Homo sapiens: one gene and its partners. The protein of the gene in region 3 purifies or fractionates together with the protein of the main gene of each other region. This does not show direct contact. Each region holds a gene or a part of one and is shown on either strand. Other genes may lie near its edges. The genes, in order: PPP2R2C, CUEDC1, ZNF114 and PPP2R1B.

Evidence for each region.
Region 1: the proteins of ZNF114 (region 3) and PPP2R2C purify together in Homo sapiens (affinity purification with mass spectrometry; 3 studies listed by BioGRID and IntAct, with this or other methods). This does not show direct contact.
Region 2: the proteins of ZNF114 (region 3) and CUEDC1 purify together in Homo sapiens (affinity purification with mass spectrometry; 4 studies listed by BioGRID and IntAct, with this or other methods). This does not show direct contact.
Region 4: the proteins of ZNF114 (region 3) and PPP2R1B purify together in Homo sapiens (affinity purification with mass spectrometry; 3 studies listed by BioGRID and IntAct, with this or other methods). This does not show direct contact.

The regions. Positions count from the first base shown.
Region 1 is NC_000004.12:6,462,602-6,469,626, forward strand, and holds part of PPP2R2C (protein phosphatase 2, regulatory subunit B, gamma), read right to left. Parts: intron 1-7,025. UniProt on the Homo sapiens protein: The B regulatory subunit might modulate substrate selectivity and catalytic activity, and might also direct the localization of the catalytic enzyme to a particular subcellular compartment.
Region 2 is NC_000017.11:57,868,402-57,875,426, forward strand, and holds part of CUEDC1 (CUE domain-containing protein 1), read right to left. Parts: intron 5,317-7,025; coding exon 5,190-5,316; intron 4,455-5,189; coding exon 4,262-4,454; intron 2,969-4,261; coding exon 2,885-2,968; intron 793-2,884; coding exon 721-792; intron 1-720.
Region 3 is NC_000019.10:48,280,081-48,287,105, reverse strand, and holds part of ZNF114 (zinc finger protein 114), read right to left. Parts: intron 5,555-7,025; coding exon of another isoform or gene 5,417-5,554; intron 4,736-5,416; coding exon 4,609-4,735; intron 1,346-4,608; coding exon 228-1,345; 3' UTR 1-227. UniProt on the Homo sapiens protein: May be involved in transcriptional regulation.
Region 4 is NC_000011.10:111,742,382-111,749,406, reverse strand, and holds part of PPP2R1B (serine/threonine-protein phosphatase 2A 65 kDa regulatory subunit A beta isoform), read left to right. Parts: intron 1-1,392; coding exon 1,393-1,453; intron 1,454-5,876; coding exon 5,877-6,031; intron 6,032-6,741; coding exon 6,742-6,884; intron 6,885-7,025. UniProt on the Homo sapiens protein: The PR65 subunit of protein phosphatase 2A serves as a scaffolding molecule to coordinate the assembly of the catalytic subunit and a variable regulatory B subunit.

The DNA of each region.
Region 1 (7,025 bases), on a different chromosome or scaffold from region 3:
TTGGATCCTGGGCCAAACCACCCAACCATAAGAGACATTTCTCAGACAACTGGGGACGTTCATAAAATGGACCAGAATTTAGGTAACAAAGAATCAGGATATGTTTTGTGAGGTGGGATAACAGCACTGGGCTACAAGAAATGCCCTCAACACTCAGAGATGCCTGCAGATGGAACGGGGAAATGACAGGAGTCTTGGATTTGCCTAAAAATTCTTCATCCAAAAGCAGGGGAGAGTAAATGAAGGAAGTACAGCAAGATCTTGATAGATTGGAAGCAGTTCAATAGACTATTTTCTCACAAATGCAAAGAAGTTTCTCCTCTTGTAACAGTTGGCCAGCAGTCCCTTCCACAGAGTGATGAGGGGCTCCAGGGAGCGGCATCTCTCCCTTCTCTGGGACAGAGGGAGGGGGGAAGGTGCACTCCCTTCTTAAACACTTTGGCCCAGAAGTGGCACAAATTTGAAAGTTTGCATCAAAACTTTTTTGAAATTGTAAAAAAACATTCAGAAGCTAATCATGATCATGAAAGAGCTCCCTTTTATTGAGATTAACCTACAGAGTGTGCACTATTTCATTCAATTCTGCCTGAAAGCCTTGCTGGTTGGGAGCTCGCTCTCTCTCTGCTTCATAGATGGGGAAATTGCCCAGGGGATGAAGAAGCTGCCAAGGGCACGGCAGCTGTGCCAGACCCAGAGCACAGGCCTGGGAGCCCAAGCCCAGGTCCAGCCTCCAGCAGCAACAGTCCTGGTCCTGAGGAGGGGTGGGGGTGGGGCTGCAGGAGGCCAGGCCAGCCTGGAGGAGGCCCTTGGCCTGCAGTTGGAGATCCCATCCCTGCTTGCGGCAGCCCACACCCCAGCTGGGAACCTCTGAGCAGCCTTTGTTCTGCCTCAATGGGACATTCAGCCCTGGGTTCTGGAGGACAATGGCCCCCACTGTGCAAGGAGGGCAGTGCCTGTCCTGGGCAGCACAGGGGCCCCCAGGTGTGTCCTGCTCCCGGGCCGGCTGGCAACTAACTAACTGCCTCCTGGTCTCAAGCAGAGGAGCTGGACACTGTCAGGGGACAAGTGTTATGCCACTTTGCACACACCGTTCCTCCTGCCCAGAATGCGCTAGAATACCATGTCCCAGCACATCATCACCCCCCAACCTGGAAATGCCACCTGCCCTTCAGTCCCTGGACCACGTGTCCAATTGTGGCCTCTGCCACTGCCATCTACCTGTGCCGTGAAGGGGGTCTCTCCTCCTGCTGAACCCTCTCGATTGCCTTTCATCGCAACACAGATAGCAAGAGCACCAAGCCAGGTAGTCTAGTTCAAATCCCAAAATCTCCTAAGTGTGGTGCATAATCAGAACTGAACAGGCCACCTAACCCTGCCCTGTGGGTCCCAGCCAATTAATGTAGCAGTCAGGAGCGTGGGTTTGGCAGGCTGCATTCAAAACTCAGCTCTGTCCCTTACAAACTATGTGACATTGAACAAGCACCTCAGCCTCAGTTTTCTCCTCTGTAAAATGGGGAAATAATATACACAACATCAGGTCTGGGGCATCTCCAATGAGATGCACGCAGCCTCATGTCCAGCATATAGTATTATAGTACATAGCCAATAAATGGTGAATCATAATAATGGCTATTGTGTTTGTTTTGTAATTATTTCATCCTAAAGTCCACTTGGATCATTCTGCTCAAGGGCTTAATGGTGAGATGCCTGTCTTTGCAAGGCCCTGTGTAACTAACAGGACTCCCCAGGGTGCTGAGGGATGTACAGACTCCTCCAGCAGCTTCAGACTCTCTCCTGAGAAGTAGCTAGGTCCCGCAGTGGCACCCAAGACACTGGGAGAGGAGAGTCCACATTTCAAGGCAGACACAGCCTTGCTCTTCAACTTTGTATGTCTAGAATCTAATGTCACCCTGGCACATAACAGGGATCAGCCAATACCCGCTGAACAAAAGGAAAAAATGTTCAACCTCATTGGTATGCAGACGTGAATTACAATAAATATTTTTCATCTTTGATATTTGCAAAGGTCAAACAAATTAGACTACCTAATGTTGATCAGCATGTGGTTAAAGAGAAAAACTTTCTGGAGAATAATCTGCCAATGTGTGTCAACAACATTAAAAATGCTAGTGATCTTTATATGAAATAGCACGTGTGGAATTCCTTCTGAAGAGCATCATCCCAAGGTTAAGGGGGAACGATGGGAGTAGGGGGTCTTCACACACACAAATGGTGTTCATTCCTGCAGTGTTAGTTATGAAAATAAGAAAGTGTGTGGGGGAGAGACAGAGAGAGAGAGAAGGAAGGAAGGGAGGAAGGGAGGGAGGGAGGGAAGGGAGGGAACTAAATATCCAGCCATAAGGAAATGATTAATTGAACTACTGAATGATGACACATGTATCACAGGAATAGTATGCAGCCAATGAAATGATGGTTGTCAATACGTGTACTGTGTGACTTGGGGGCGGGGCCAAGGTAACCAGTCACCCCTCTTCCTTGCTGGGACTTGGGATTACACAGAAAAGACTGGCCGCAAGACAGGAATAAAAAAATCTGCTTTATTAATGGTAAACCTGTAGGAAAAAAAAGAGCTATGGACCCCTACTTCACCTCCCCACCCCTTGGTCCTGCGGGGAGAGGTAGGTCTAACTTCTAGCTTGTAAAATAAGATAACTGTTGGCCTCTCCCCTGTAGAGCAACCTGGAAGTCAGAGGCCCATGGACCCAATGGGTGAGAGAGGAGCACGGACATTTAATATTGTAACCCCTCCCCATAGGGAAGAGCTGCCCAATGGATGGCAGGCTCTCACCATTTCCACCAATCACGAAAGCCAAGGAGGTAGAAGGCAGGGCCAAGGAGTTCACCCTACCCAGAGTTCCAGCAGAGCAGGGCCAACCCTATAATTCGTGGGGCACAGGGAAAAATGAAAATGCAGAGCCTCTTATTCAAAAAGCAAAGGAAAAGCATCATTAAAGGTGCTAAGATACAAAACCTTTTCATGCCTTCCATATTTTGTCATGGTGTTATTTGCTATTTAATGTCAATTCAAATTTAAAAAAAAAAAAGCTTAAACTCTTAGCGTGCATTTTATCACTCACCATTCTAGTGTGCACCTCCAATTTTAAATGCAAACATAAGAGCACGTAACTGGAATGTAGACTCACCAAAATGCACAAGTTATATTTCGCATATGGATTTTGTTCTTACCAGAGCAGAGGAAACTAACTTAACTGTTCTTATTTCATTTCTGGATATGTGTACATTCTTCCAACACCCTCTACCCTTGGTTCAATAATAAACAAGGAAGGACTAGGAGGAAAAGGAACTATAGGTGCCCTCTTTTTCCCTTCCCTTCTGTGTAATCATTTTCAGTGTCAGCGATTGGCAAATATGGGCACGTAACACACGTTAAGAAAGGACACCATAGGGTTCCTGCGTCATTCATGTTTCTTAGAAGTCACTGCATGAGAACATCAATGCCTTGGAGCATTATTTGAAAGCATGGCCCCTGCCTGTGAAACTACAGACGCACTGAGAAGGTGCATGAGCTGTCCACTGTGCATGGGGCTCAGACGCTCAAGTGAACACAGGGTAGCGTGCTGTGGGAGCCAATATGTGTAACCACAGACTCGCCTGCCACACGTACCCCTCTGCTCATTCCCAGGCTCCCCCGTCCCATCAGATTTCGCTTACAAAACACAGGATCCAAAGTGAAATTCTTAAAAATTTCAAGATAGTAACAGCAGAACATGAACCCAAGCACAGGTCCTTCTGAGTGTGGGGACCTAGATGACCACACAGGTTGCATATCCATGAAGCCAGCCCTGGAGCAAAGCCCTGGAAAATTCCTATAATCTCATGCCAAACTAGAAAAGTAGCCTTCAAAATTGTTGATACAGACAGATTACAGTTTTCATTAAAAACAGACATGGGCATTAAAAAAAGACTGGAAGGAAATACCCCAGTTGCTGAGAGTATGTCCCTCTGCTTGGTGGACTCACAGGAGTTCACTCTCCTTCTCTTACTCCCCATCACACTCTCCATGGAGCCTAGCGCTTCATACAGCGGCTCTTCCAGTCTCAAGGCCTAAACACTTCTTACCAAACATCCCTTAGCTCTGCAAGCTTTAAGGATAAACACTAAAAAGTGTAGCAAATGACAACAGTCAGGAGATGGAGTGGAAAAATTTTATTAGAATTTGATTTTCATCTTCCAGAAAGAAAATGAGAAAAACCGTGCTCTGTGACTGCGCCAAGCTTTAAGTTCGGGTTGATTAAAAAGAAAGGAGCACATTGCTTACAGCAGGGGCGTGGGAGTTGGCCTACACTACAATTTGGGGAAATTGACAGCAGTCGCCTTTTACACGTGTAGAACTTCAGAGTCCACATGCCCTTGGCTCCTTACAGCCTCATGACAACCCAGGGCACCAGGCAGTGCAGGGAAACTGAGGCTCAGAAAGTGATGTGATTTGATGGAGGGCACCCCAGCACTGAAATGGAGCCCACACTCGCTGTGAAGCCCAAGGGAAGCTTATGTAAGTGGCGTTTCCAAACAGAAGCGAAAGGAACACAGAATCTGAACAGTCCACATCTTGATTTTCAAAAGTCAAAGGCTGACTCTCCCTAATCTCCCTCTGTGCCACCACTAATGTCCCCCCTCTTAGCCTCAGTTTCCCCATAGGTTGGGGTGGAAGTTAGGCTAGCCAGTCTGATGACAGTTCTAAGGGCTAGTCTAACTCTGGCCCCTAAAGAATAGACATCATCACTTACTGATCTATTAAGAATAAACTGAGGCTCAGAGAGACCGTGTGACCTGCCCAATATTACAGACCCAGGGTCAGACCCCACCAGGAACCCAGATCTCCCGATGCCAGATCTCAGGCTCTCTTATCTGACCAAAAATACCTCCTCAATAGGACTGAGGAGGGAAAACCAGAAATTGGCAACCTTGACTTGAGTGAAATGAAAGAGGGTTCTCAAAACAGAAAGCAAACAAAAATCCCTCTGGGTTTTATGTATCTCGAGTCTTAGCTGTGGGTTACAGATCAGCCTCCTGGTTTTCTTGATAAGCAGTCAGGGCTGTACGAGTTGGGGTGCTATGGGCTGCAAGTAACGGAGACTTGAAAGTGCACAACGAAAAGGAAAAGTAACAGCTCATGTAACTGGAAGTTCAGAGGCGGCCTGGACATCAGGCCTCTATGTCCTGGATCTCACTCACTCTCTGCCCTGCCATCAACGGTGGTGGCCTAAGACTTGCTCCCCTCATGGTGTCAGATGGCTGCCAGCCACCACAAGGTTTCCCTGTTCCCATCACAAGAGAGGGACCAACTACCTGTGGTTCTCCCTACTTTCCACTCAACCTCCAGAACTGACTCCCACATCCATTCTGGAACCAGTCACTGCAAGGGGAATGAGATCATCCTTGCACTGATCACATCCAGCTATGGCCTGAGATCTCTTACTAGGAACCATATGTGTTCTCCTTGGAAGAAGAGAGACTAACTGTTGTGGAGATCAGCTGCAACGTCCACCATAAGGGTGCAGATTTCACTGAATGCTGAGTCTCCCACAAGCAGCATCCCCTCTTCAGTGTGGTTTCCTGGGCAGAAAGTAGATGGTATCCAGGGCACAACCAGTTCAAAACCTGCAGACAATTCCATGCAGGAAAACCTGCCTGCCTGCTGCGTTCAGACAGCCTCAGGACCCCATGATGACCTTAGCAATTCCCAAGCATCCTTCACTTCCTCAACTATAAAATCAGGACAACTCTGTGGGAATAAACAGACTACTCTGAAATCACACAGGACATCCAGGGATGGGAGTTAGGAAAACATGGGTACATCCTTTATGCAGATGCAAAAAGCATGAGTGTCCAACAGTGTGTGATGGCTGAGATGCTCAAACAAGGGGAAGCTGTGCCTCTGGCCTCAGCTGAAAAGTGTGCTCCGGAAGTGCCTTACCTGTCAGGCACATGAGAGTGACTGTTGCTCCCCAGAAAGACCCAGTCACTGCCAGGATCTACCTGGTCAGCCTGAACCACCTCCCCTTGGCTGAGCTCCTGTGTCTTGGTCATCACTGCTGCCCAGGGCAGGATGTGCTTGGCAAATGGTGCTAAGCAAAGGAAGGATGGATGGGTTTTGTAAGTTCAGTCTAGTCTGGAAGTGCTTATTCAACTCACTCTAAAGCTAAGTACTGAGGCCTGCCGCAAAAAGAGAAAGAACAGAGCCAGGAAGAGTCCTTCCTGGAACCATATCCAGCTCTTGAGAAATGTCTAACTAGATGGAGACTTCCTAGCACCCTCCAGGGTCCAGGGCCCAGGGCCCAGTGCCCTATCAGCTGCACTGCTCTCCCCACACCCTGACCCCATTCATGCAAAGTTCTCTGTGCCCCCAGGTGGCCTGCAGGTACACCTAATCATCACCATAACCCTCAATGCAGTTGAGCCCAGCCAAGAGTAAGCCACCCAGCCCTGCCACCAAAAAAAAAAAAAAAAAAAAAAAAAAAAATCCAACCTGCTCTGACGAATTCACACCAAGATGTGAATGACTAACAAAACCTAAACTCTTCCTAAGATGTTTGAGATTTTACAAGAGACTCAGGAACCCAAGCAGGGCTCCCACGGGCAAAGATGACATTGGACATGGGGCCCAAAGGATGAGAAAGAGTCAGTGGTGAGAAAGGCAGGAGGTGGGTATTCCAGGCAACAGCCATTGCAAACGCCCTGAAGCAAGAAAGAAAATGGCCTGCTCAAGGAACAGGAGGTAGATCAGAGCAGCTGGGGTGTGGTGGGGGAGTGTAGACTCAACCACAGGTAGAACAGGAGTTTGTGCACCTGGTTCTTCCGCAAACTGAATTTTAGCATCCACTGTTTGCCCACAGGCTCTTCCAGTTACAAGGCATATAAATAATAACAATGCCATGTGTTCAATGCCTCCAACAACCCAAGCACTGTGCTGGGCACTTTTGATATTAGCAAAATCACTGATCATCCCAGCAACCCTGTATGAAAGGTCGTTATTATTTCTC
Region 2 (7,025 bases), on a different chromosome or scaffold from region 3:
CGCAGACCCCTGAGGACGCCACCCCAGGAGCAAGAGGCTACATCCTGGGTCAGCCTGCAGGGGCAGCACAGGACACCCTGAGCCAGGCCCAGGGACCGCAGGCGGCTCAAGATCCAAGTATTCCCTCCCCAGCTGCAACACACTGCAACGCATCTTGGCTCGCTTTCCCGCCGCCACCGCCTTCCCGCCCCTCCCCTAGCCACCTCCAAAGTTGGTTCTGGGATTTCCATGACTAATCCGAGATTTTCCTTGAAATGGAGCCTGAAAGGATCGCAGCCTCATTCACACATGGCTGTGGGTCTGTGTGGCGGGGAGGTGAGGGGGAGGGAAGGGGGCATTCAAGGCTGGTAGGACTTTGTGGAAAGAGGTCCCCCACCCCCACAGAGGCTTAGCAAGGGCCTCTCTGTGCAGTCAGCTCCGGCCAAGCCTCCTCGAGCCACAGAGAACGTGAACATGAGGATTGCGGTGAGGGCATGTGTGGCACGTTATTTTTCTGCAGACATCTGGCTCAAGAGGATTTAAAACTTAATTTGTATCTAGACTCAGCTGTAGAGGGAAGTGAGGCAGGAAGGCTGAGGGAGCCAGCCTGCGATGAAAATGTCACTGGTTCACCAAGAGTCAGCTGCATTACATGTGCTGAGGGGCTCCCTCACTCCTGGGAGGCCACAGGGCCTGTCTCAGAAAAGCTGGGGAGGGAAGCGGGGCCTGAGTGGGACTCACACTTTCCCATGTGTTTCAGCTTGTCCCTGAATAAGGCATCTTCAGACACAGCGGGGTTGGCGTCGCCAGTTCCTGGAAGGAGACACCTGCTGAAGGCCGGCCACCGTGGCCAGCCATGGCCGCTGTCCCAGCCCTACCCACCCATCTGAGGACAAATGCAAAGAAAGAGCAGGCTTCTTCCCTGGCCAGAAGGGAGTTTAAAGCAAGGAGGATGTGGAGTTCCAGGAGCTCCTCTTTCCCCTTGTGGACTTTGTTTCCTCCTCTGTAAAAATGGGGAGGGTTCAGCGGTCTACTGTGTGTGCAGACAGCCAGCTCGTGTGTGCTCCCAACTGTCCACGCCTCTGACCAACTCCATGTTTCATGACATCACCTTGGTAGCTTGGGAGTATTTCCACCATGGAGGTCACCAAGCACTACATATCAGGCTCCCGCTGCACCCAGAGTTGGCTGTGAAACATTCACCAGCACACCAGGGGCCTCCTGCACCCCGACATTCATGTGACAGTCAAATGAGGTGCTGGCTCAGAGCCGGCATTCACCTGTAGCAAGTCCCTTGTCCTTCCTGCCAGGTAAGCCCATCCATTGCTCCCTCCCAGCCACAGGGTTTCTGGCTATTAGACAATGAGTAGGAATAGAATGGGACTAGTCCTGGAGTCAGAACCCCACCGGCCACCCAGAGTCTCCCGGGCTCGCTCAGCATCCACTTGGGTTTTTTGCTGGTTTCTGAAGCCCCTGCTCTCTGTCCTGCAACTTGGTTAATCCCCAGTCACCTTGCCTGCTAAGTCCCCTTTGAGTCATTCTGATCCATCTCAGCAGCCCCGGTATCTCTAGTTAATTCAGGATCAAGGACAAGAGGCTCCTGCTTAAAACTCCCAGCTGCACATCTGCTGAGCCCTAAGCTCCCAGCCTGCTGCTTATGAGTCAGTTCCACAGGATTTTCTCCCTTCAAGCTGGGATCAGCTCAGCTCCCCATCCCTCTGCTCCTCCACCCCCAACTCCACTGCATGATGCAAGGTCTATTCCAGGCAAGAGCCCTTCTCCGAGGTGGGCAGCTTGTGTACATGTGGGGCAGGGGGCACTGACTGATGAGGGGCCACTGTTCGCACACAGGCACCAGGTCATCGTTCCCAGCTGTGGCTCAACCCAGTAGTCTGCGCATCCCAGGAGCACTGCAGCCCCCTCACCCCTATCCAACCCTCTTTCAGCCATCAGAGCTTCTGAGCAGAAGGGCCTGGCCCTCTTTACAGGCAATTCTTACTTCCCACCACCTTGTACACAAAGCTAGAAATTCCTCTTCCTCCAACACCTAGGGCAAGGCCCAACAGATGGCAGATATTCTCCAGCTATGTCATGAATGAATGAGTAAACTCCCCAGATTAATCCTGCCCTCCTTTTTTCCCATGCATTTGCTAAAATCAGTAAGTCCTCAGCTTTGCTAGTTTGTTCTACCTGTTTTCTGGGCATTTCTCCTTACAAGACCATAAGCTTCCCCAGGACACAGACCAAGACTTATGAGTCTCTGAGCCCCACCACGGGGCATTTTGGGGTCCTTTTCTTCTTTTTTTTTTTTTTGGAGACAGGGTCTCACTCTGTCACTCAAGCTGGAGTGCAGTGGCATAATCACAGCTCACTGCAGCCTCAACCTCCTGGGCTCAAGTGATCCTCCCACCTCAGCCTCCTGAGTAGCTGGGACTAGAAGCACAGGCCAATATGCCCAGCTAATTTTTAGTACTTTTTTGGTAGAGATAGGGGGGTCTCATTTTGTTGCCCAGGCTGGTCTTGAACTCTTGGGCTGAAGCAATCCACTCTCCTCGGCCTCTCAAAGTGTTGGGATTATAGGCGTGAGCCACCGCACCTGGCCATGTGTCATTGACTAGCCTACACTCGAGGCATAGGTTGAGAGTTCAGCCAGCCTATGTTACTTGAACACAACTGTGGGCTCTGAAGCCCAGCAGTGGCTGGATTGGAAAGACCCCAGAGCTGCTAAATGGACTGGATATGGAGATGGGGGCAGAAGCAGCCCCGCCAGCCTGCTGAGGAGGCCCAGGCCCCCTCCCACAATCTGTTTTTTCACCCTCCTCTCAAACTCCAAATATGCAAAGCAAAGTTGGGTGTGAGCTCCCCACTATGCCTCTAGGTTTTCTTCCCCAGAAGGCAAAGTTACCTGGGACAGGAGAGGAAAAGCCAAAGTCGTTTCCGACAGCCACGCTGCTGGATTTAGATTTCTGGGATTCGTATTTCAATCGATCTGGAAAAGGACCACATTCACAGGTCAGGGAGGTTAGCTCCTGGGCTCCCAGGGGCAGGCTGGGCTGGGACACGGTAGTTTGCTAGAGGCTAAGTCCCCAGAATCACACATGAGCACACACGGGCACCCAAAATATGAGTGCACACATCTACCAGCTCTCAAAGAACCAGCAGTAAAAGAAACTACCGCCTGACAGCCATCTCAAATGTCAGAATTAAAAGGACTCAGAGAGACTGTAGAGTCCAAACCCCCTCATTTAAAAAGAAAGGCACGGCCAGGGATGGTGGCTCATGCCTGTAATTCCAGCACACTGGAAGGCTAAGGCAGGCAGATCACCTGAGGTCAGGAGTTCGAGACCAGCCTGGCCAACATGGTGAAACCCCGTCTCTACTAAAAATACAAAAATCAGCCAGGTGCGGTGGCGTGCGCCTATAATCCCAGCTACTTGAAAAACTGAGGCAGGAGAAACACTTGAACCTGGGAGGCGGAGGTTGCAGTGAGCCGAGATTGAGCCACTGCACTTCAGCCTGGGTGACAAGAGCGAGACTATGTCTCAAAAAATAAAAAATAAACGGAAAAGCCTTGAGGCTTCTAGCACCTTTGCTGCAGAGCTGGGGCTAACCTTGGGCCTCAGCCCAGCCTTCTCCCTCCACAACTTGCTCCTCCCCCACCAACACACCATCAGTTACACACACAAGCTCTCACGCTGTGGCCGTCACAGGGACAGAGCTCCACAGCCCTCTCGTCTCCTCTACCCCAAACGCACTCCCACCCTGCAGGGGAAAGGCAGCCAGGCTAGGGAGCAGGGTCTCCAACCCAGAGACAACCCAAATACCTGCAAAGTTCCAGAGCCCCTGCTCTAAAGTCTTCCACTCAAGAGCCTCCCCCGCCCTGGCCTTCATGAACCCAGTCGTTCTGTTTCCGGAGCTCCAGACACATCACGCCTGCCTTGGGGCTGGGGCTCTGTGAGGAGGGGCAGTGCTCTTCTCCCTGCTGCCTTGTGCCAAGGCCAGTGCCTGGCACAGAGCAGGTGTGCAAAGGGAAGAAGGCCTAAGAGTGCACATCCTTCTTCCTCTGAGTCCCGAGGGAGAAAGGGGTGGGCTAGTGACCCAGGTCCCCATAGGCAGAATTCTGAGGCTCCCATGGGATAACTTGGTGGGAGTCATGCCTCAATAGGACAGAAAGCACCTGGCCCCCTCAGCCCCCAGCTCAGTGTTTTCCTGAGCCCCAAGGCTAAAGCCAGCATCACCTCCCTTCTTCAGCCAGGGAGAAGTGGCTGCAGGCGCTGCCCACCTCTCTCCAGAGCGAGGAGGAAGTCGCGGTTCCGTTGCAGCTCCTTCATGAACTCCTCGTTCTGCAGGAAAAGCGCGATCCTCTCGTCCTCCAGGTACTGCTTCCAGCGGCTCTCCTGGTCTCCGGGCCCTGGCCCAGCCATGGCAGGTGGACATCCCTCTCCACTCCCAGGCTTGGGGCCCCCAGCGTTACCCTGAGGAGGGAAGCGAGCATGTTGAATGTGTACACACAAGGGTACATGTTGCACAAACGTCCACATCCCTCTGGTTGCACACATGCCCTGTCCAACATCCTCCAGCCCTCACCTGAGGCTCACACCTCCTAATGGAACCTGGTTGCGAGCCAAAATCCAACGGACAGGTCAGAGCCATTGCTGCAGGGGACACAGCAGTAGCCTAAAAACTATTTTTCCCCCACGCCACAGACCACCTCATACCTTCATCTACAACCTGAACAGTCCTGAAAACAAATCTGCAGACTGTGGAACAGCCTATACGTCAATTCCCAAACTCAACCCTCTCCCTGCACCAGCAGCCTCAGGGTGGACCTGCCCCGCTGTGGGGCACCTTGGGGCATGCCAACATCTAGCAAGAAGCAGCCTCTGGCCCTTTCCCAAGGGAGGAAGGGGGGTGCTCTGGCCCTCCACCATTGGCCACCCCATGCCCGCCTCTCTCCAGCCTGAGGTGACTGCTGCAGCAGACAGCCTCCTTAGGCTGTCACCTTCCCTGGATAGAACAGGAAACCTCCAGGCCCAGGCAGGAAGTGAGGCTTTCAGTTCAGCATTCCTGCCCTACGAACCCAGGGCAACAGAAATAGCTCAGCCTGGGTTTAAACATCAGGAAGTAAAACTGGCTGGCACAAATTGTGTGGGCAAAGAGAGATGCTGGACAAGCAGGTGGGAGTGGAAGGCGGGGGCGGCCCCTGTTACCTGTATGCTGTCCAGCTGCTGGGGCAGGATGCGGAGAAAGTCATCCGGAAGGTTGCCCAGCAGTGGTGGGTTCCAGTTCCGATAGCGTCTCTGGCTTGTAGGGGCTCCAGAGCCCAGCGCGTCGATACTAGGGGATGGCAGGTGACAGGGAAGAGGAAGTCATTAAGCCCAACCCCAGGTCTCCTGGCCCCATCACACCAGGTCCTCAGGCAGGTCGGATCCTGCTCAGAGATTCCCATGGCCTCCACTGCCTCCAGAACAAAGGCCCGTCACTCTGTCTCATCACTGGAGATGTCTCCACCAGCCTCAGCGAACTCCCCAGCCATTCATGCTCTCCAGTCACTCAGTGCCCTTCCAGGTCTCTGGACCTACAGAGCTGTCTGTCCACGGTGCACATGTGGAACTCTGTGGATTTAGCCATAGATGTTTACAAATGTCCCCTAAAGACAGCAGGGATCGCATCCTTTCATGCTTCTATCCTAGCACCTACACAGTGCCAGGCTCATGGTGCTGAGTGACAGGTATGGTCCAAAGGAACAGACACATAAGCCACCAACAGCACAGCCTGCTGCATGCTGGTTTGCTGAGGAAGGGGCATATGGGGACGCCAGGATCCCTACAGAGGGTAAAGCAGATCTGAGCTCCAGTTCTGGCTCAACCACCAGCCGGCAGGGTAGTCTTAGGTGGGCCCCTGTTCCCTCTAGGGCTCGGTTTCCTTATCTAGAAACTGCTGCCTCCCTGCCCAGGTGCTGGGGAGCCCCTCAGGAGGCCGTGTCCTGAGCAATGTTCTGAAAACGTGCGTGGAGATGTGAGTGTGGAAGGGATCTCGCTCTCAGGGTGCTCTGGGGCCGCTCTTTCCAGGCCCGTTGTGTGTGTGGCAGGAGCTCTGTGCCATGGCAGAGCCAACAGCTGGGCAAGGCAGTAGAGGAAGAGGGGGTGGCACACACCCTCCCTGACCCCCAGGCTCCCGCCCTACCGCCCTGGGCCTGAGGGCAGCTCGGAGCCCGGCCAGGAGGTCCCCACAGCTCCATGGCAGCCTGCAGCGTGGCAACCGCAGGACACGTGTTCCGCTGAATCAGGAAAACGGCACACTGAGAAGGCAGCCGAGGGCCGGGCGGTGGGGGCTGCTCTAGCTCTCGGGCCTGGCTTTGATTTGGTCTTCAGCTCTAGGAATCCCGCCCGCCCCCTCACTGGAGGGGAGCTTTTCCGGGCTGCCGCTGACTATGGAAATAACTTCCTTTCCTTTTCTATTTCGGGCGGGTGGCCGGCGGCGGGGGCGAGGGGAAGGGGCGGGGGCGGCAGCAGAAGGGATAACCAGCTGCTAAGTGCCTGGTGGGAGCTCAGCTCTTGCAGACTGGAGCCAAGGGAACCCCAGCACGCCTCGTCCACCCTCTCCCTGCACAGACACAGGGGGAGAGGGAATGGTCTGGAGAGCAGCTTGCATCACAACCCGGGACTCCCATTCCTAGGCCAAATTTTTTTCTACATCACTGCCACCTTCTGTCACTGTTGGAGGCTTCATTTTTCTCCAAAGGCCAGAGATGGGGAGAGAGGAAGCCTCATCTCTAAGGGACTCGCAGACCACCCCAGGCTACAGCAGGGAGGGACCCTCGCCAGGGGTATTACCAGTTCTTGAGGTCTCAGGGTCTTCATCTGGGACATGGGTGCCCACCCCCAATTTAACCACACCTCGGAGCCACCCAGGAAAGCAGTGGAGGGAGAACCTCAGAGGTGCACCTGGACCCCTCTAGCCATGAAGACTCCAAGTGGAGAAGGGCACAAGGTGGAGGAGGCCCCTGTTCTCAGCTGAGTTTCCTTGCTGCTAGGCCTGTGGTC
Region 3 (7,025 bases):
TCGCAGTTTCTCTCCAGGGTGAGAACAAATGTCTACTCAAGATGAATGAAGATGAAAGGCTTTCTGTAGACTTTACCTTCACAGGGTTTTTTTTCACATTTCTGTAAGATACGAGAGTTCAGGGAAGATGTTCTCACTCATGCTAACCCCTTGAGCTCCCTTCCAATATGTCCTCCTCACATGTTTGGTACAGTCAGAAAATTAATGAAAAATTTTCCACCTTCCTTTCATTCACAGGGCTTCTCATCTTTGTGAGTCTTAAGATGTTTTTTAAGTCCTGACGACTTTGCAAAGTCTTTTCCACATGTCTTACATTTATAGGGTTTCTCTCCAGTGTGGCTCCTTATATGTGTATATTTTGAGGACTCCCGAATGACTTTCCCACATTCTTCACATTCGTAGGGCTTCTTCTGCACAACATGCTTTCTTAAATGTTTATTAAGGTGTAAGGAATATCTAAAGGCTTTCCCACATTTCCCACATTCATACGGTTTCTCTCCAGTGTGAATTTTCATATGTCTCATAAGGAATGACTGATAAAAAAAGGCTCTCCCACATTCGGGGCATTTATGGGTTTTCTCTCCAGTGCAATGACTCTTGTGTGAACCGGAATTTGGAGCGTTGGCAGAGGTTGCCCCAGTTTGACAATCCTTCTTGTTTGTCTCTGCGGTATACAACTGCATCTGCATGGCGTGAATTGAGTTATTTCTGGAGGTGTTCTCGCACTGAGTAAAATCATACATTTTCTCTCGACCATGAGTGTTGTGTGCCCTAAGGGATCCGTCTTCACGGAAAGCTTTTCCAAATGGATTCCGCTGGTGCCTGTTGGCCCCCGTATCAATTTCATCACGTATATGATGCACAGTGTTCTGACTGCCAGTCCATGTGCTTGATTTCAGCTCTGTTTTTCTCCCACACGGAACCCACTGAATGTTCCACCCCAAGACTCCATCGTCTTCGTTGTTTTCATGTGTTTTTTGACTATCGTTTAAGACAGGATTATACTTGAAAATACTTGAGTCACGTGTTAGGATACATTGTCTTATGGAATCTCCCTGTGAAGGCACAAGCCTGCAGGTAGGTTTAGAGTGGTTCCTCATTTCATGATCTTCACAAATGCTAACAGGAGATTCATCTTTCTCAGGGGCAACTGCAGGTGGCTTCACATTATTCACCCCCTGCCTGTGTGGTTCCTCTGTTTTGGGGCATCTCCAGTCTTCTCTTAATGTGGAGTGCTGGGAACTGATGCTCGTGAGACACACTCTGTTGGCTTCAGGAAATGTTCTTTTAGGAAGAATATCCGGCTGAGGGGTTGCGTCTTTGGTTTTACATGGAGTTGCCCAATCTGAAATACAGTGGCACAAAAGTTAAATTCTTTGTTGAAAGTAAAGGTGGGTTAGAGATGATGACATAGGCAATCTCCGTGTGGATTTCTCTCTTTCTTTCTTTCTTTCTTTCCCTCCCTCCCTCGCTCCTTCCATCCTTTCTTTCTTCCTTCCTTCCTTCCTTTCTTTCTTTTCTCTTTCTTTCCCTTCCTTCCTTCCTCCTTCCTTCCTTCCTTCTTTCCTCTCTCTCTCTCTCGTTCTCTCTGTCTTTCTCTCTTTTCTTTAGACAGAGTCTTACTCTGTGGCCCAGGCTGGAGTGCAGTGGCATGATCTTGGCTCATTACAACCTCCGCCTCCCAGGTTCAAGCAATTCTCTGGCCTCAGCTTCCTGAGTAGCTGAGATTACAGGTGCGTGCCACCATGCCTGGCTAATTTTTGTGTTTTCAGTTGAGATGGGGTTTCACCATGTTGGCCAGGCTGGTCTTGAATTCCTGGCCTCATGTGATCCACCTGCCTCAGCCTCCCAAAGTGCTGGGATTACAGGCATGAGCCAACGCGCCAGGCCTCTGTGTGGATTTCTTTCTAAATGTTCACTCAACATGTATGATAAAAATGTGAAGGGGAAGAAAGCAAGAGGAAGGAAGCAGAGAAAGACATCAGAGATTCTGCAGTGTCAGGAATGTGATGACGGTAAGGTCAGGGGTTCAACATGGAGAGTGTCATGTTACTGAGGAACAGTTCTGCAGAGATCAAGGAAACGATCAGGAATTCTAAGTGGAAGAGAATTGGACAGAGAGTCCATGTGAAATTTTTATTTTTTTGAGATGAGGGTGTCACTAGGTTGCCCAGGTGCTGGAGTGCAGTGGCTGGCTATTCATAGGTGTGATCACAGCACACTGCAGCCTTGAGCTCTTGGGATCAAGTGATCCTCTTGCCTCAGTCTCCCGAGTAGCTGGCTCCATGTGCAATTTTAAGGAGAAAAGGAACAGGCCTTTAGCAGGGAAAAATGAAAATATGAGAGGATGGATAAAAGTCAAAAAACATAAGCTTGGACAGGCACAGTGGCTCACGCCTGTAATCCCAGCACTTTGAGAGGCTGAAGTGGGTGGATCACCAGAGGTCAGGCGTTTGAGACCAGCCTGGCCAATGTGGTGAAGCCCCGTCTCTACTAAAAATAGAAAAATTAGCTGGGCATGGTGGCGTGTGCCTGTAATCCCAGCTACTCAGGGGGCTGAGGCAGGAGAATCACTTGAATCCGGCAGGCAGAGATTGCAGTGAGCTGAGACTGAGCCACTGCACTCCAGCCTGGGCAACAGAGTGCCTGTTTTTTTCTTTCTTTTTTTTTCCTTTTAATTAAAAAAAAATTGTTTTTAAAGACAAAAAGAACAGTGTTTTGCCATGTTGGCTGGGCTGGTCTCGACTTCCTGGCCTCAAGTAATCCTCCTCCTGCCTCAGCCTCCCAAAGTGCTAGGATTACAGGTGTGAGCCACTGTGCCTGGCCTATAGGTCTCCTTAGCTGCTCTGTAGATAACAACTTGAAAATTATAAAACATTAAGTTTTCTCTTTGAGATATTCCTTCAGGTCCTGCATTCTGATGAAATGACTATGCTCACTGATCTGAGGAATGCCGTGAGAAACTGACGCACCAAAGAATGTACTTTCCTCATCCCGATGATTTCATCCCCCTTCCTCTGACCAATCAACGTCTCCAATTCTCCAGTCCCTTATCCTCCATGATCCCCTTAAAAATGAGAGCAGTGGCTCATGCCTGTAATGCCAACACTTTGGGAGGCCGAGGTGGGCGGAGCACTTGAGGTCAGGAGTTTGAGACAAGCCTGGCCAACACAGTGAAACCCCGTCTCTACTAAAAATACAAAAATTAGCCAGGTATGGTGGTGCATGTCTATAATCCCAGCTACTCGGGAGGCTGAGGCAGAAGAATTGCTTGAACCCGGGAGGTGGAGGTTGCAGTGAGCCGAGATCGCGCCACTGCACTCCAGCCTGGGCAACAAGAGTGAAACACAGTCTCAAAAACAAAAAAAAAACAAAAACCCCAGAACCCCCCAGGGAGAAGAATTTGAGCGTCTCCTCCCATCTCCTCGGTTGGCACCATGTAATCATGCAACTTTCTCTTTTCTCTGTTGCAAACCCTGCTGTCTCAGTGGCGAGCCTGTTGCTCTGTTACCATGCTGCTGGCTTACAAACCTGTTGGTCCTGTAATGTTCACATCTACCTGGTACTGAGATGCATAAATGCCTGGACAAAACTGCCCTGCACTGTTTTCAGACCACTTCTTGCTCCAAATGAGAGGGCAGACTGGGTTTGCCTAGTTGAAATCCTGCTCACTGGGCAAGCATGTGGTATAAAGGAACTGTGCCGAGACTTTCTGTCAAATGGACACAGGCTTTGGTTTGCTGGGGTTCTGAAGCTGATGATGTGTGAATAGAAGTGCAACAGTGGTCCCTCTACTTTTCTCATCAATGCACTAAAACTCTGCCAAAAGGGCTCAAAACGACCCTTTTCCTGTGCACCATGTTCACCTACATAAGGATCCCCCAAATTCTGTTCAATCACGAAGAGAATAAAAATGTAATGCATTAGCTGGGGGTGGTAGAGCATGCCTGTAATCCCAGATACTCAGGAGGCTGAGGCAGGAGAATTGCTTGAGCCCAGGAGGCGGAAGTTGCAGTGAGCCGAGATGGTGCCACTTCACTCCAGCCTGGGTGACAGGGTGAGACCCCATCTTAATGAAAAGAAAAATAAAGGCTGGGTGTGGTGGCTCACGCCTGTAATCCCAGCACTTCCGGAGGCCGAGGTGGGAGGATCACTTGAGGTCAGGAGTTCAAGACAAGCCTAGCCAACGTGGTGAAATCTGCCTCTACTAAAAATACAAACAAAAATTAGCCAGGTGTGGTGGTGTGCACCTGTATTCCCAGCTACTAGGGAGGCTAAGGCAGAAGAATTGCATGAACCTGGGGGGTGGAAGTTGCAGTGAGCTGAGATGATGCCGCTGCACTCCAGCCTGGGAGATAGAGTGAGACCCTGTCTCAAAAAATAAATAAAATAAAATAAAATAAAATAAAATATAAAATAAAATAAATAAAGTAATGCAACAAACTGACTTCCAGTTTCATGGTGAACCCTACACCTACTACCTGGGGGGCAGCAGCTGTGTCTCTGGAATTTAACCCAGTTCCCATTTTCCAATGCACTTCCCAGAACACGGTTCCAAACCAGCACTGGTCCCATCACGGACTAAGTGCAGGAAGGGGGCCTCCTTACCTATGAATGCCAAGTTCCTAGAATTTTCCAGCATCACGTCTCTGTAGAGATTCCTCTGAGCTGGGTCCAGCAGGGTCCACTCCTCTTTGGTGAAGTTCACAGCCACGTCTGCGAAGGTCACCGAGTCCTAAAATAACACATGCAGTTTGGCTCGGAGGGGTGTCCTGTTATCAGTTTGAACTGTGACCCCTTTCTCCACAGAAAAAGGTAGGTTGAGGTCTTAACCCTTGGTACCTGCAAAGGTGACCTGATTTGTGAACTAGAGTCTTTGCAGATGTCAATGAATTAAGATGAGGTTGTGGCCGGGCGCGGTGGCTCACACCTGTAATCCCAGCACTTTGGGAGGCTGAGGCAGGTGGATCACAAGGTCAGGAGTTCGAGACCAGCCTGGCCAGCATGGTGAAACCCCGTCTCTACTAAAAATACAAAAAATTAGCTGGGCATGGTGGTGGCGGGTGCCTTTAGTCCCAGCTACTCAGGAGGCTGAGGCAGAGAACTGCTTGAACCTGGGAGGTGGAGGTTGCAGTGAGCCGAGATCACACCACTGCACTCCAGCCTGGGCTACAAAGTGAGACTGTCTCAAAAAAAAAAAAAAAAAAAAAAGATGAGGTTGTACTGGGGGTTGGGTGGGCCCTAATCCAGTGACTGGTGTCCTTATAAGAAGAGGAAATCTGGCCAGCTGCAGTGGCGTATGCCTGTAATCCCAGCACTTTGGGAGGTTGAGGTGGGACGATCGCTTGAGGCCAGGAGTTCAAGACCAGCTTGGGCAACACAGTGACAACCCGTCTACAAAAAATAAAAAAATTACCCGTGAGTGTGGGCGGGTGCCTGTAGTCTCAGCTACCCGGGAGGCTGAGGAGGGAGGATTGCCTGAGCCTGGGAGGTGGAGGTTGCAATAAGCTATGATCCTCCCACTGCAGTCCAGCCTGGGCAACAGAGCAAGACCCTGTCTCAAAAAAACAAACAAAATATAAATTAAAAAAAAAAAAAAAAAAAGAAGGGGAAATGTGGACAGAGGGAGGGAAACAGAGGGAAGAATGTCATTTGGTGAGGGAGGCAGAGACTGGAGTGATGGGTCCACAAGCCAGGGAATGCCAAGGACGCCAGTGACTACCAGCAGCTAGGTAAGAGCATGGAACAAATTCTTTTTTGGAGCCTCCAGAAGGAAGCAACTCTGCCGCTATTTTGATCTCGGACTTCCAGCCTGCAGAACTGTGAGAAAATCAATGTCTGTTGTTTAAGCCACCCCATCTGTGATAGTTTCATCAGCCTGAACAGCCTAATGCAACAGGAAGAGGTACAGTCGATTGGTAGAGACTGACGTCCGGTCGTATGACTCAGGTGCTCTTTCTTCTGAGACAGGGTCTTGCTCTGTCACCCAGGCTGGAGTGCAGTGGTGCAAATGCAGCTCACGGCAGCTTCGAACTGCTGGGCTCAAGCGATCCTCCCACCTCAGCCTCCCAAGTAGCTGGGACAGCCAGCACACACCATCACCTGTGGCCCTGTCTCAGGAAAAAGAGTACCTGAGTCACGCGACCGGACTTCAATCTCTACCAGTTGACCAACTGTGTGTCTTTCTCATGCATTAGCCTGTTCAGGCTGTTATAACAAACTATCACAGAGGGGTGGCTACTCCTTAAACCCTGGCCGGGCATGGTGGCTCGTGCCTGTAATCCCAGCACTTTGGGAGGCCGAGGTGGGCGGATCACCTAAGGTCAGGAGTTCGAGACCAGCCTGGCCAACATGGAGAAACCCCATCTCAACTAAAAATACAAAAATTAGCCGGGCGTGCTGGCAGGTGCCTGTAATCCCAGCTACTCGGGATGCTGAGGCAGGAGAATCACTTGAACCTGGAAGGCGGAGGTTGCAGTGAGCCGAGATCATGCCATTGCACTCCAGCCTGGGCAACAAGAGTGAAACTCCGTCTCAAAAAAAAAAAAAAAAAAAAAATTTGGAGTGGGGCACGTCTCAGTCCACTGCTTGTCATCTGCAGGTCATGACAGTTGCGGGAGATGCTGCCACTGCCCGCTCCATAAACGCCTAGTGTCCCCTGTGAGACCCTGAGTTCCTTAAGACAAAAACACTTTCTTTTTATTTTACTTTATTATTATTTTTAGAGACAGTCTTACTCTGTCACCCAGGCTGGAATGCAGTGGAGTGATCACTCCTCATTGTGGCCTCAACCTCCTGGGCTCAAGCGATTCTCTCACCTCAGCCTCTTAAGTAGCTGGGACGACAGCCGTGCACCACCACACCAGGCAAATTTGTTTTATATTTATAGAGACGGTGGTCTTGCTACATTGCCCAGGCTGGTTTTGAACTCCTGGCCTCAAATGATTCTCCTGTCTCACCCTCCCAAAGTCCTGGAATTACAGGCTTGAGCCACTGCACCCCACCAAAGACACTTTCAGCTCCTT
Region 4 (7,025 bases), on a different chromosome or scaffold from region 3:
GAGGCTGAGGCAGGAGAATTGCTTGAACCCAGGAGGCGGAGGTTGTAGTGAGCTGACATTGCACCACTGTACTCCAGCCTGGGCGACAGAGAGAGATTCCGTCTCGACAACAACAACAACAACAACAACAAACTGGAAAATAAAAGTTAATTAAAACTGAAGGAAAATTCTCAACCTGAAATGAAAAAGAAATCTTGGCTGACGTAATCTAAGTGTATGCCAAAATTTGTTCATTATGATCTTTTAGTACAAAGCAATTTTGGGCCAGGTGCGGTGGCTCATGCCTGTAATCCCAGCACTTTGGGAGGCTGAGGCGGACGGATCATCTGAGTCAGGAGTTAAGAGACCAGCCTGGCCAACATGGTGAAACCCTGTCTCTACTAAAAATACAAAATTAGCTGGGCATGTGCTGCATATCTGTAATCCCAGCTACTTGAGAGGCTGAGGCAGGAGAATCACTTGAACCCGGGAGGTGGAGGTTGCAGTGAGCTGAGATTGTGCCACTGTACTCCAGCCTGGGCAATAGAGTGAGACTCCATCTCAAAAAAAAAAAGCTATTTTGTCTTATTCAATCACTATTTTCAAAGCACTGACACATTATATTACCTCTCTTTTTTTAAAATATAGAATCACCAGTCAGGAACTTCTTAGAGTTCAAAGAAGCAAGACTGTAAATGTGTAGACCCCAGAAGGGAGGCACTAGGAAAGTGTGTCACAGCATTCTCCATGTGGTGTGGAAGCCCCGGGGTTAGAGGACTGTGTAAATCTGCTCCCGGAGCCCATCCCCAGCCTGCACTGAAGTGGCCACCTGTTGACAGTCGGGAGGAACAGGGCTGGGAGAGCAAGCCATGCCTGGGCCATATGCCCTGTAGTCCTGGGCCTGCTTTATTCTCCCTCCAGGGCTTTCTCCTGTTGTCTCGAAAATACTCTCTTTAACTGGGGATATCTCTATGTCTTGAGGTCAGTTGCTTTATCCTTAAGGATTTGTCATAATAGTAACCAAAAAGGGAAGACGATTGAGAATTAGTAATATTACTGACAGGTGTTTTCCTGGGTAATTCATTTTTACAGGTAATCCAGATTTGCTTGGCAGACCATACACAGTGCATTCTTCCTGCTCTTTTGCAGTGTTGTGGCTGACTTCTGGCCACCCTGTTCTCTTTTACCTAGCAGGGCCTATGCCAGCTCACGTATGCTTTTTTTTTGTTTATGATTTCCGTCCAATAAATAGATTTATGGTTTGTTTGTAATTCCTGTGGTGTTTCTATCTCTTATTTGTTTATTTGGAAACAAGTTTTTTTAGCCTTCAGGTAACCTTGGTGTAATGTAAATAGACCATCTTTATTTCTGAATTTTGGCAATGTATGTTAATGGAATCTTCTGTATCTGTAGGGTGTGGAATTCTTTGATGAAAAGCTGAATTCTTTATGTATGGCTTGGCTCGTGGACCATGGTGAGTAGATAAAAACAGATTATTGAAAGCCCATATATCCATGATTTTCATACATTTCCTTTTAGAAAGGAATCTCAGTCTGACCAGATATTTTGCCTTAATATTGTAGGAATGAAGAAAGGCTCTAATTAAAGTTTAATCTTCTGAATATAAATTTGACGTTTCTACCAATTTTTTGTATCTTCGATTTTATTTTCTCCATTAAACAATTTATTTGCATTATTTTCTTACTCAATCTATTACATTATCTTCAGACCATCTCTTTTATATATCTACTTACTCCTCCCTTATCTGAAGATCCTCTTTTTGACCATCCTGTAATTGGTGTCTTCAGCAGCTATACACTAGGTTGTATGGAGATTGGAATCAGATGAAAGGCCTGGGTGGGAGAAATGGCTACTTGGCTTTTTGAGGTGACATAGAAGAGGAGATCTACAGTGAGACAGTAGAGGATTCTTAGGTGTGGGAAACACTAGCTTTGCCATAGGGAGAGAGAGGGCCTGGATTTCTGGTTTGGGTGAAAGGAAGGCTTACTGCTTGTACTCTCACTGCTGCTGCTACAGTGCTAGGAGAGGGTGAGCTCAGGGCAGGTCAGATAGGACAGCAGGAATGAGCAAGTGACTTCCTGGTGAGGCTTCAGGTAGAGGTATATGTGTGTATCCCCTTGTGTGCCAGGCAGCAGTGGGTGACAGATGTACCGTCTCTGCCAGATCCCAGGTCCAGACTTGACAGCTTCAGTGTTGTCTTAGACCTGTTTCGATGAGTGTGAGTGCCCCTATGGGGTCATGTGACATTGTCCTTGAGCTTTGTTTCCATGTTTTGGTGGATATAATAGATAACCTGAGTCAGTTCCACAGTATCTTTTATATACTTGATATATGTATTTAGTGTATCTCTTTGTTCATCTATGGGTGCTTATGCCTGGAAATTTGGGAGGAATGAGGATATTTGTGTCTGCTTATACGTGTGGGTGGTTTTGTTAAAGGCATGTTTGCATCATATGGAGGATCATATGGTTAAGAGTGTGAAGAGGAAGGATGTGAAAAAATATGTGAAAATGTATAAGGGCTTATATATGTGGGTATTTCCAGTGTTTTCAAACTGGATTGTAGACTTCTTTCTCTTTTTCTTCTCTAAAGTTATCTTATTGTGGCCTATTTATTTCTTTTTAAATAAAATTAAAATTTGGCAAATCATAGGAAAGAAATACCACTTTTAAAAAAAATGTTTATGTTATATCTGATAAATATTTGACGTTACTGGGAATGGTGCATCCTAGCAAATCATTCTGTGCTTTTTTAAATTTTATTTTACTTTAAGTTCTAGGATACATGCATAGAACATGCAAGTTTGTTATGTTACATAGATATACATGTGCCATGGTGGTTTGCCGCATCTATCAACCTGTCGTCTAGGTTTTAAGCCCCACATGCATTAGGTATTTGTTCTAATGCTCTCCCTCCCCTCGCCCCTCACCCCCTGATAGGCCTCAGTGTGTGATGTTCCCTTCCCTGTATTCATGTGTTCTGATTGTTCAACTCCCACTTATTAGTGAGAACATGTACTGTTTGGTTTTCTGTTCCCGCGTTAATTTGCTGAGAATGATGGCTTCTAGCTTCATCCATGTCCCTGCAAAGGACATGAACTCATTCCTTTTTTATGGCCGCATAGTATTCCGTGGTGTATATGTGCCACATTTTCTTTATCCAGTCTGTCATTGATGGGCATTTGGGTTGGCCTCAAGTCATTCTATGCTTTCTTTAAAAGTTGGCATTTTAGATTAAGATGGTGTTTTATTTTGAGGAATTTTTAAAGTTCTAATATTCCACAAAGAATTAAATTCCTGGCACCCTTTCTCTGTAAGATTGTCTTCTCTATGCAACTTGATTACTCCTTCCTCTTTTCGGATTTTCTCTTTCAGTTTGGGAGCAGGAGAAACCCTTGTTTATTTCACTGCAGCAGCATGCTGAAGTGGGGACTGCAAGAGTTCCATGAACCAATGAAATAACAGCTCTGAAATTGTTTTGTACTTAATCACAGGAGCTTTTTTGCTTTTGCATTTCAGATAAGTGTTATATAATGATCACTGGATCAGTTAGAGTTTTTGAAACTTTTCCCCTAGTTAGGTAACTACTAAAAGAACATTGTGAAAATTCCAGAGAAGTATAAGGAAGAAAGTATCACTCACCTATATTCCTGTGGTTGAGTAGACAGTTTTGATCAGAGGGAGGAATGTAGAAGGGAAATTTATTTATTTATTATAGGAGAAAGGAGAAGGTATCAGTTATTGAGCATAGATAGACATTCAAAGAAACCTTGCAGGTCAGCCAGGCCTTGAGAGGAGATGGGGAGAGAGAAAGAGACAGAAATAGACAAAAGAAAACAGGCAGAACTCTGGAATGGTTTGCATTCTTCTGAAAACAGTCAGAGGAACCAAGAACATAGTAGGCATCTGGCCAAGTAGAGTTCAGTGCAGTTAAGGTCTTGGTCAAGGCTATGCATGTGTGTTCCCCAGTCTCTGGTTTTTCTGGCAGTAGAGATCCCTTCCTATGGTAATGGCATTATGATAAAAATCTAAAGCGTGTTAAAAAAAATAGTAATTTGCTGAGCATGGTGGCTCATGCCTGTAATCCCAGCACTTTGGGAGGCTGAGGCGGGTGGATGACTTGAAGTTAGGAGTTCGAGACCAGCCTGGCCAACATGGTGAAACCCTGTCTCTACTAAAAACACAAAAATTAGCTGGATGTGTTGGCGGGCGCCTGTAATCCCAGCTACTCAGGAGGCTGAGGCAGGAGAGTTGCTTGAACCCAGGAGGCGGAGGTTGCAGTGAGCCGAGATCTCGCCACTGCACTCCAGCCTGAGAGACAGAGTGAGGCTCTGTCTCAAAAAAAAAAAAAAAAAAAAAATTAGAGGAGAAGACACAAATACTCTAGCTAGCTCCTCTTTAGTGGGGAGGACAGGGAAGGGTTTGGGCCAAAGACAAAGACTATGGATATGAAGGGAAGGAATCTGTATTACAGTAAAACAGTTGACTTGAGTTTGCTCCTTAGTGCATCTGAGTCTTACCGAAAGGTTGCTTCTCCTGTAGACTGTCAGTTTAAGTGTTGATAATCAGTTGTATGGGTCACTTGTCTATGCTGTCTTGCTTGTTCTCAACATCATTGCCCAGAAGGATCTATGAATAGAAGAAGTTGCCTATTTCTTGGTTGGAGGCTTGTATAAATTGCCTAGGACTGGGACTGTGGCTTGGATAGCTATTCCTGCCCTTCCTATCATCCCAGGAAGGTTGGGCCCACCTGGGGAGAGAAGTAGAATAAGGAATTAGTACCTACCACCCTCGATTTGTTAATCTGAGCCCAAATTTTGAGTCTTACTGGATCTGTAAAGTGAAGTGACACCAGGCTTGTTTTTGTTCAGTGCTGTATATAGCAACTAATTGTGAGAGGATTGTAGCTGAGACCTTTATTATCTAGCTTTATGTCTTTGATAAATGATCAAAGGATATAGGGAATTATTAGATGTTAAGGCAGGCACATTGATTCAAAGACATTTGACATCTTGTTTCAACCTAAGCATTTTCATGGAGAGGAAGCAAGTCAGTCTGATGTTTGTATTTGCTGTTGTATAGATGACCACAGTGGCCTCTACACCATTTCCTTGTTGTCTTTCTCAGTCAACGTCGCTTCTCCGTGATGTTGCTGGAATAATCTTGCTAAAATTCCACATTGGTCATCAGGTCACAAGTTTGCTTTAAAAACCCATCACTGTTTTTCCTAATCAAATCTAAGTCTTTCATAATGCTCTGCAGTCTGGGTCCACCCTAATTGTCTAACTTAGAAGTCTCACAGGTTTCAGTTTTTTCTGTTTGTGTCCTGGATACATGTCTTTACCCTTTCTAGGAATTCCTCCCCGCTTCTCTCCACTTACACAGATCCTCCCAAATCTTCACTGCCCAGTCAAGGCTTCTTTCTGTGCCGAAGCCTTCCTAGACCTTCCCTGTTCACTCTTCTCTGCACTGCTACAACCCTCACAGCCTTTACTACACAATGCCACACTTCATTCTAATTGCTCTTACACCATGTGACTTCATGGAGTGTGTTAGCTTTCATTTCTCTGATAAGAGCATATTTCTTGTGAGGGAAAGTATCTTCTGTGTTCTTTTTGTAGCACATAGTAGGCACTTGTATTTGTTAAATAATTGATGATGCATATGGTGAGCTCCTTGCATCCCTTTTCTGTGGATATGCACACTTGGAAACTGAGTTGGAGCTGAGCATGCTTGTCATTGCAGCATGATTACATGTGGAGTCTGATTGCAGAGGGGTTTTGCTTTTGGTCCACATTTGATTTTCATGTAAGTAAACTAGGTTATGCTTAAAAAACAATAAGCGATATGAGAACATGTTTTTGACCTCTTCTGCAGTATACGCCATCCGAGAAGCTGCCACCAACAACCTCATGAAACTAGTTCAGAAGTTTGGTACAGAGTGGGCCCAAAATACTATTGTTCCCAAAGTGTTAGTAATGGCAAATGATCCTAATTACTTGCATAGAATGACCACTTTATTCTGCATTAATGTAAGTATAACATAACTGTTATTGCTAAGCTTAATCATTAAAGCAAAATTATTCATGACTATTTCTGAATTATCAGTATACTGTCTTCTATTTGGAATATATGTCTTGTATTGATTAATTGGAATAGACAGGAGATGAGAGAAAATGTCAATTTTAAAATTCATGTTAAAATCTACAGTATTGGCTGGGCACAGTGGCTCATGCCTGTAATCCCAGCACTTTGGGAGGCTGAGGCGGGCAGATCACCTGAGGTCAGGAGTTTGAGACTAGCCTGGTCAACATGGCAAGACCTTGTCTCTACTAAAAATACAAAAATTAGCCGGGCATGGTGGTGCATGCCTGTAGTCCCAGCTACTTGGGAGGCTGAGGCAGGAGACTCCCTTGAACCTTGGGCAGGGGGCAGAGGGTGCAGAGGTTGCAGTGAGCTGAGATCGCGCCACTACACTCCAGCTTGGGCGACAAGGCAAAACTCCGCCTGAAAAAAAAAAAAACAAAGAACAAAACTACAGTATTTTAAAAGTTCAACTTATTTGTGAATTCTGGTCTAATTCTCTGATCATTTGAATGATTCTTGTGTCCCCCACTCAGCTGCTCAAACTAGAAATATTTTCCTATTGGTCAATTATTTTCTTATTAAATATTAATTTGTTTCATTAGATTTTGGAATTTTTTAAAGTATTTTAAATGTGCCATCTTACTTATTTTTCTAGGCACTGTCTGAGGCCTGTGGTCAGGAAATAACTACTAAGCAAATGCTGCCCATCGTATTAAAAATGGCAGGAGACCAAGTAGCAAATGTTCGCTTCAATGTGGCCAAATCTCTACAAAAGATTGGACCAATTCTAGATACCAAGTAAGATTTTAGTGTTTAGTCTTGTTTTAAAAGTGTACTTTAAATTTTACCTTATAGTGGGGAGTAATTAGCTAAAATTAAGTTCAGGGATTTTCACTTTACTTAAGATCTGGGTTTGCTTAAAGAAAATAATTTAGCAAC